2 separate regions of the Homo sapiens genome follow, and region 2 is linked to region 1. A link means that fine-mapping ties the variant in region 1 to the expression of a gene that starts in the linked region. Tissue or cell type: whole blood. Region 1 holds a variant in brackets; the other region holds the start of a gene. All regions are shown on one strand. Distances are from middle to middle.

Region 1 (4,118 bases):
AAATTCCCCACTTTCCCCCAAAACACAATTACCCACACGCAGCAAGGGGGTGCGGAGGCCCCCCAGCCTGGCTCCTGCAGCCTGGGCCAGGAGGACCAGCATGGGGACACAGGAGCTATCAGGCAGGAGTCAGGCTGGGGGACGAGGGGACACGGGATGGGGTGACAGACAAGGTAGTGCAAGGGCAGAGGCTTCTGGCTGGAAGTCCTGGACCCCCAGCATAAAGGAGGGGAGGAAAGGAAGGGGGCTCATATAAAGCAGGAGACCCTGAGCCCCGACACAGGTGGCGTGGGGGAGGACACGCAGAATGACGAGGATAAAACCGGCTCTTAGGACCGTGGCTTCTGTCCTGGGTCTCAGGGCACACGCGCGCACACATATACAACACAAGATGCTTCTGGCATGAGGGGCAGGGTCCCAGAGACCCCACCCTCATTCAAGCTAAAAACTGGGAGGGGCTGAGCAGGGGCTGGGACCAAGACCCATGTTTTACCAGTGGGGCGAGTTTTTTTGGTTTTTCTCTCCAAAAGGGAAATTTAAAAATCTACAACAAATCACACCAAATTCATTAAAAGTGATAAAAACCCAGCCTCCCCCTCCTCACTTGAGCTTCAGACCGGGCCAGAAAAGCTCAACGATGAAGAAACAGGAACATGCCCAGGTCAGGTCTCCCCACCCAAACACAAGTCCCGGAGTGGGAAGCTTGGAGCTGGGATGGCATGGGCAGCCCCAGCCGCCAGCGTCTGTTGACTGCCAAGAGCTGCGTGAGGAGGGGGCAGAGTGAGAGAGACCACCCCAAGCGAAAAAGGTTTCCGAGGACAAATTCTAAAAATATGAAAGATATTTTAGCCGAAGGTATCGGAGGGCTTGATGGCTGGGCGAGGTGGCAGCGGGGTCTCCGCGGGGCCGCCATCAGCTGTGCTGCTCCAGGTAGGCGGACAGGAGCAGCCCCGGCGGCAGGAAATCCAGGTGCCGATTACTGACCTTCATCTGCCGCTTCCCCTCCAGGTCAGCACCTGCAGACGGGACCAGCGGGGCAAGAACGGGAGGAATTTGGGAGCCGCGGCAGGTAGAGGTGCCTCGGACCTGCACCACCCTCGCTTCTTCCCAGGGAGGTCACCGCCAGCTGGTGTGTGCTGGTCACTGCGGCCTGGCTGGCCCTAAGCCCGCAGGTCCGGGAGCCTGGCTCACAAGAATACCTAAGGCTCCCTACAGGAGCACTCTCCTCGGGCCCATCTCACTCCCCGCTGGCACTCATTCCACTGTGCGGATGGGGACCCTGAAACGCACTGGGCCTGAGGCCGCATGGCCACTCACACGCCTGCCTGGCGGAGTGTCCGGCCTCCCCTCAGGCTCCCTGCCCTGCAGAGGTGGCTCTGAGGCACCCAGGTCCTGAGTGGTCCAGCTCCCACCGGCCTCCCCTTCCCCATCTCCCCCTCACTGCAGAAAAATGAATGACCTGGCCAGGCGCAGTGGCTCATGCCTGTAATCCCAGCACTCTGGGAGGCCAAGGCAGGAGGATCATCTGAGGTCAGGAGGTCGAGACCAGCCTGACCAACATGGTGAAACCCTGTCTCTAGGGCTGGGCGCGGTGGCTTAAGCCTGTAATGCCAGCACTTTGGGAGGCTGAGGCAAGCGGATCACGAGGTCAGGTTGAGACCATCCTGGCTAACACAGTGAAACCCTGTCTCTACTAAAAAAAAAAATATATATATATATATATACAAAAAATTAGCAGGGCGTGGTGGCGGGCACCTGTAGTCCCAGCTACTCGGGAGGCTGAGGCAGGAGAATGGCGTGAACCCGGGAGGTGGAGCTTGCAGTGAGCTGAGATCGCGCCACTGCACTCCAGCATGGGTGACAGAGC[G/A]AGACTTGGTCTCAAAAAAAAAAAAAAAAAAGAAACCCGTCTCTACTAAAAATACAAAATTAGCCGGGCGTGCTGGCCGGCACCTGGGATCCCAGCTACTCGGGAGGCTGAGGCAGGAGAATCGCTTGAACCCGGAGGTGGAGGTTGCAGTGAGTAAAGATTACGCCACTGCACTCCAGCCTGGGTGGCAGAATGAGACTGTCTCAAAAAAACCAAACCTAACCAACCAAAACAAAAAAAAAGAGCCACGTCCCATGTGAGCTCCGCGCCTCAGCAGTCCCCTCTGCCTGGGACCCCCCCGTCCTCTACTCCCCATCTTGCTGGGACCCCTCCTCTTCCGTGTCAGGACCACAGCTCCACACCCACCAAGCTCCAAGCCCCGCACCCCCAGCCAAGGCCGGATGTTCTGAGCAGAGGCAGGCATGGGGGCTGCGTCTCCCACAGAGGGAACAGAGGGAGGCATCGTCCGGTTGCCATGGAAACTGTCACCTCGGCAACTCCAGGCGGGGCGGCAGAGACAGGTGTGAGAGGCTCAGGACCAGATGGGGTGCCTGGGGCCGGCGGCGCCTGCACAGACGTTCACTACGGGGGTGAGTTCTGAGACTGCGCCCCGTTGGAAAAGTGGAGCGCAGGGGCCAGTAGGGGGTCTCGCCTGAGGTCCCACGTGTGGTATGTGGGAGGCCTTAGAGTTAAATGCAAACCTTCCAGACACTGCGTCCCCCCATCTTATCTCTGGCTCTGGGAGGTCCCTCAAATCCAGGCTTCATCACCCCCACCCCGGGCCCCGAAGATGCAGATGGAGGAGTGTCTGTGTCCAGCAGCCTGGTTGTGTCTGCGGTCACCCTGCGTGGGGCCGCATATGCAGGGAGCTTCTGGTGAATTCAAGGCAGGGTCCCACTGCCACCCCTGAGTTCGTAGCGTCCCCACTCCAGCCCCCTTCCCCACCTCCCCACCAAGCCCCACTCTGAGGAACCAGGCCCCTGGGACCCTGGCCACTTTCCCAGGTTGAGCTGGCCAACTTGGGGTCTTGGGGGCCACCGGCACTTACTGGCCGAGATGAGGTCCATGTACTGGCAGACAGCGTGCAGCAGAAGCCTCTCGAAGCTGTGGGGAACGGGCAGTGAGCGCCGTGCAGGGGCTGCAGCGTGGGGTGTCCGCCCACCTGGCCGCAGCCTCGGAGGGTCCGCTCGCCTGGCCGCCCCCCCTTACCTGTTGTCTAGCATTGCTGTGTACACGGCCTGGGGGGACACGGAGAAGAACCGAAGCAGCCGCTCCTCCCAGGTCTCCAGCGTTTCCTGGGGAGAGCGGCCCGGTGGTCAGGGAACTGCGGGACCTGTGGGTGGGGGGCCAGGGAGGTCCAGGGCCCCCAGGAGCCCACAGCGCTGGGCTCAAACATGACCTCTGACCCACCACGTGAGGCTGCTTAAGTGTCTCTGAGGCCACCATGCCACCTCCTGCCTGTGCCTTCCGTGGAGGAAACTCCTACACACCCTGCAGTGCCCGCCTTCGTTGCCCCCGCCCTCCTACTCAGGGCCCTGGTGCCGCTGTCTGTATCCTGCCCTGTTTCCCCTGACACGACCTGCACCGGGTGAGAACCTGTGCCTGGGAAACGGGCCTTCAAAAAAGACCAGGCAGGTAGAAAAGGGAGGCCCGGCAATCCCCCACTCACCATGGGGATGCGGCTGCGCTTGAGGACGGCTCGCAGACGCCGGCTGATGCGCTGGAAGCACTCGCGGGGTGTATAGGCGGGGTCCTCTGCAGGAGTGGGGGAACAAGGGGCAGTCTTGGGGTGCTCGTCCTGGCCCTGCCCACCTGCCAGACCACGCCCACCCAGGGAAGACCACGCCCATCTGTGCCTTGGCCTCTCCTGCCCACCAAACCACACCTTCAACGATACTGTGGCCCCATCCAGCCAGCAGACCCTACCCCCACGAGGCCCTGACCCCAACCCATCCAGCTGACCCTACCCTCACCTGTATGTTCACCCCAGCTAGACATGAGGCCCCACCCACTCCAGGCCCACACAAGCCAGCTAGCCCCACCCCTACCCACTGCCATCCAGATCCTGCCCCCACATGCTGGCCACATCCACTCCATGTCCCGCCCCATCCATATCCTACCTACCCCATCCTGGCCCCACACACCCCATTGCCCTGTCCCCATCCATACCCTGGCCTCACCCACACACTAGGTCCAACCCACTCCAGGTCCCGCCCACACCCCATCCATATCCTGCCCCCCATCGCGGCCC
Region 2 (4,096 bases), 39 kb before region 1:
CTCTACTAAAAATACAAAAAGTTAGCCCAGTGTGGTTGCTCATGCGTGTAATCCCAGCTACTCGGGAAGCTGAGGCAGTAGAATCGCTTGAACCCGGGAGGTGGAGGTCGCAGTGAGCCGAGATTGTGCCACTGCACTCCAGCCTGGACGACAGAGCAAGACTCTGTCGCAAAAAAAAAAAAAAAGCAAGAAAGAAAGAAAAAAAGAAGGAAAGAGAAAGAAAGAAAGAAAAAGAAAGGGAAAGAAAGAGAAAAACAGAGAAAGGAAGGAAGGAAATGAGGCTAGGCGTGGTGGCTCACACCTGTAATCTCAGCACTTTGGGAGGCCGAGGCAGGCGGATCACGAGGTCGGGAGATCGAGACCATCCTGGCTAACACGGTGAAACCCATCTCTACTAAAAATACAAAAAATTATCCGGGCGTGGTGGCGGACGCCTGTAGTCCCAGCTACTCCGGAGGCTGAGGCAGGAGAATGGTGTGAACCCGGGAGGCGGAGCTTGCAGTGAGCTGAGATCGCGCCACTGCACTCCAGCCTGGGCGACAGAGCGAGACTCCGTCTCAAAAAAAAAAAAAAAAAGGAAAGAAAAGAAAGAAATGATCCATGGTGAAGAGAAAAGCCGGGGGAACCTCGTGTGCTGCTCCCCCTGGGGACAATGTCTGAGGTCCTCCCCACAAGGTATCCCCATCCTTCTGGTCCCCGCACCATGGATTAATGCAACGTGAATCCCGCTGGCCCCTGTGGGGCAGATGTGAAAAATGGAGCTACACCATGAGCAGGCCTGCAGTCCCAGCACTTCTGGAGGCTGAGGTGGGAGGATCACTTGAGCCCCGGAGGTCGAGGAGGCTGCAGTGAGCTATGATTGCACCGCTGCACTCGAGCCTGGATGAAAGAGCAAGACCCTGTCTGTAATAAAACAAAAACAACACACACAAATCCCCACCTCACAAAAGGCCCTATGGCCCAGATTCTGAGAAGTATTTTATTTTAATTTTTTTGTAGAGATGGGGTCTCGCCGTCTTCCCCAAGCTGGCCTTGAATTCCTGGGCTCAAGAGATGCTCCTATCTGGGTCTCTCAATGTGCCGGGATGGTAGGTGGGAGCCACTGTGCCCGGCCAGCCCTGACTCTGTTCATCAGAACCTGCCCTCAGTGAACAGTTTGGGAGGGGGCGTGTGATCCAGGCTCCACCAACCCAAGGCACCCTTGAGACTTGGCTGGAGTGAGGAAGAATTTTAGGAGGGGCCCACTGAGCCACTGGGTTGAGTGTGGGGTCCCTGGAAACACACCAGGGGAGGCTGGTGAGGAAAGAAGCCATCAGAGAAGAAAGGAGAAGCCAGAAGCAGACACTGGACATTGTTCAGGCACCTGGATCAAGCCACACCTGAAGGCGGACATCCCTGAACTTTCCATATAACTTTCATGATTCAGGCTCCACCCAGTTTGTCTGGGTTTTCCTGTCCCTTGTAGCCAGTCTTCCCAGCTGCCTCTGCCTTGGCCTTTCCAACTTTCTATTCGTCAGGGTGTCAAGCCCCAGAGGCCACAGGGACAGAGACAAAGGTGTCAAGTGACCTTCCTACCCCCAACAGACCTTCTCTCTAATATAGAGGAGGAAAAGAAGGGAGGGTAGCAGGACAAGAAAGTGGGTTGTTTACACGCTGTGGCCTCCAGCTAGGATTGTGAAACACCCTGGGGGACTCTGGGTGTGGTGAAGTTGGGGCCGGGGTGGGTGCAGCCCCCCTCTCTGCCTCCTGCCCATCTGAGGGACTGCCCCCCACCAGGGCCAGCAGGCTGTCAGGCTCACAGAGGCCCGAGGGTCTCCCAGCGACTTGTCGACTCTGGTGTGAGTCTGGCAGGAGGTAACCCAGTCCCGGGGAGGGCGGAGGCTGGGCGGGCGAGTTCCCCTTTCCCCAGCTGGGCCGCTGCCCACCCGGGGAGCGGCCCGCCCCCTCCACCCTCATAAAAGCACCCCCAGGGCCCTGCCTGGGTCAGTGTCTCAGCCACAGCGGCTTCACCATGCACAGCTGGGAGCGCCTGGCAGTTCTGGTCCTCCTAGGAGCGGCCGCCTGCGGTGAGGAGGCCTGGGCCTGGGGTGAGGGACAGGGCTGTGTAGGGGCGTGGTGCTCCCTTCCGTCACACGGACGGTCCTCCAGCCCCTCCAGGTGGGCAGGAAGGGGGTGTCTCTCCTCACTAATGGAAGGCTCTGAACGCTGAAAAATTCTAGAAAATTCAGATTGGAAATCGGAACTTTCTGGAGTCAGCTTTTCTTGCAGACAGAGTCTGAACGTCTGCGTGGAAAACTTCATCTGCGTGGCTGACTGGGCTGGCCCAGGCACTGGCTGGGTCAGCCCCATTTCTCTTATGTCCAACTGGAAGGCACTGCGCCCAGGGTAGGGCGCTGGGATCTGCCCCCGGTCCCCAGCCCACTGTGGGTTCTGTACTCTGGGGCATTCCCGCCCGAGGGTATCTGAGTTTGCAACGCTGAGGGGCCCCAAGACGGAAACGGGATTCTTTTTTTTCTTTCTTTTTTTTTTTGATAGGGAGTCTCGCTCTGTCGTCCAGGCTGGAGTGCAGTGGTGCGATCTCGGCTCACTGCAAACTCCGACTCCCGGGTTCAAGCGATTCTCCTGCCTCAGCCTTCCGAATAGCTGAGATTATAGGCCACGCCGACTAAATTTTGTATTTTTTTTTAAAGTAGAGACGGGGTTTCACCATATTGGCCAGGCTGGTCTTGAACTCCTGACCTCATGATCTGCACCCCCCCCTCCCCCCCCGCCCCCGCGCGGCTTCACAAAGTGCTGGGATTACAGGCGTGAGCCACCGCGCCCAGAGATGGGATTCTTGCGGGGAGCGGCCTGGGGGGTGAGAGCTGGGATCCCGTCAGGCAGCCTCGCCCGGGGGAGGAGTCCACCCCGCGGCCCTCACGCGCCCGCCCACCCACAGCGGCGCCGCCCCGTGGTCGGATCCTGGGCGGCAGAGAGGCCGAGGCGCACGCGCGGCCCTACATGGCGTCGGTGCAGCTGAACGGCGCGCACCTGTGCGGCGGCGTCCTGGTGGCGGAGCAGTGGGTGCTGAGCGCGGCGCACTGCCTGGAGGACGCGTGAGTGCCCGCGCCGCGCGGGGGAAGAGCCCGGGTGCGGTGGGGGGAGTCGGCTGGCACCGACCGCGGACTCCGTCCGGTCCCCAGGGCCGACGGGAAGGTGCAGGTTCTCCTGGGCGCGCACTCCCTGTCGCAGCCGGAGCCCTCCAAGCGCCTGTACGACGTGCTCCGCGCAGTGCCCCACCCGGACAGCCAGCCCGACACCATCGACCACGACCTCCTGCTGCTACAGGTCGGCCCCGTGTAGCGCAGTCCCTCCTGCGGCGCTGGGATCCCCGGCCCACCCTCACTCCACCCCGCCTACACCGCGCCCCGGGTCCAGCCTCGACCTCTCCTGCTGCATGGGGACCCCGCCCCACAACCCCCACACCCTCACCCCGGGTCTAGCCTCGACCTCTCTTGCTGCGCTCGGAGCCCCCCCACCCTCTGCACCCTCACCCCGGGTCCAGCCTCGAACTCTCCTGCTGCATGGGGACCCCGCCCCACAACCCCCACACCCTCACCCCGGGTCTAGCCTCGACCTCTCTTGCTGCGCTCGGAGCCCCCCCACCCCCTGCACCCTCACCCCGGGTCCAGCCTCGACCTCTCCTGCTGCATGGGGACCCCGCCCTACAACCCCCGCACCCTCACCCCGGGTCTAGCCTCGACCTCTGCGGCTGCACTGGGAGCCCCCCACCCCCCGCTCCCCCTGCATCCCCATCCCGGTTCCAGCCTCGACCTTTGCAGCTGCACTGGTGAGCCTCGCACCCACCCCATCCCCACCTGCACCCCCACCCAGGGTCTAGCCTAAATCTCTCCTGCTGCACTGAGACCCACGCCCCTGCCCTGATGCCCACCTCCCCCGTCCCGTCTCCCCGAGCCTAGCGGCATTCTCCCCAGCCTCGCACCCCCGCACCCCAACCCTGACGTCCGCCTCCACCCTCAGCTGTCGGAGAAGGCCACACTGGGCCCTGCTGTGCGCCCCCTGCCCTGGCAGCGCGTGGACCGCGACGTGGCACCGG

The links. PIP is the estimated chance that this variant, and not a neighbour inherited with it, causes the effect.
Region 2: it holds the start of CFD, and the variant in region 1 is the best candidate, but not a certain one, in a credible set for the expression of CFD in whole blood (INTERVAL, PIP 0.73).

The regions. Positions count from the first base shown.
Region 1 is chr19:896,525-900,642 of GRCh38, forward strand. R3HDM4 (R3H domain containing 4) reads right to left here. Exons shown (of 8, transcript NM_138774.4): 5 at 3,537-3,622; 6 at 3,077-3,162; 7 at 2,916-2,971; 8 at 1-1,016. The coding sequence ends at 913. Among named protein-coding and RNA genes, the nearest start is that of RNU6-9, 5.1 kb to the left of the region's middle. RefSeq lists a silencer at 2,252-2,452. The variant G/A (reference allele first, on the strand shown) is at 1,868.
Region 2 is chr19:857,679-861,774 of GRCh38, forward strand. CFD (complement factor D) reads left to right here and starts at 1,986. Exons shown (of 5, transcript NM_001928.4): 1 at 1,986-2,066; 2 at 2,939-3,095; 3 at 3,183-3,327; 4 at 4,021-4,096. The coding sequence starts at 2,012.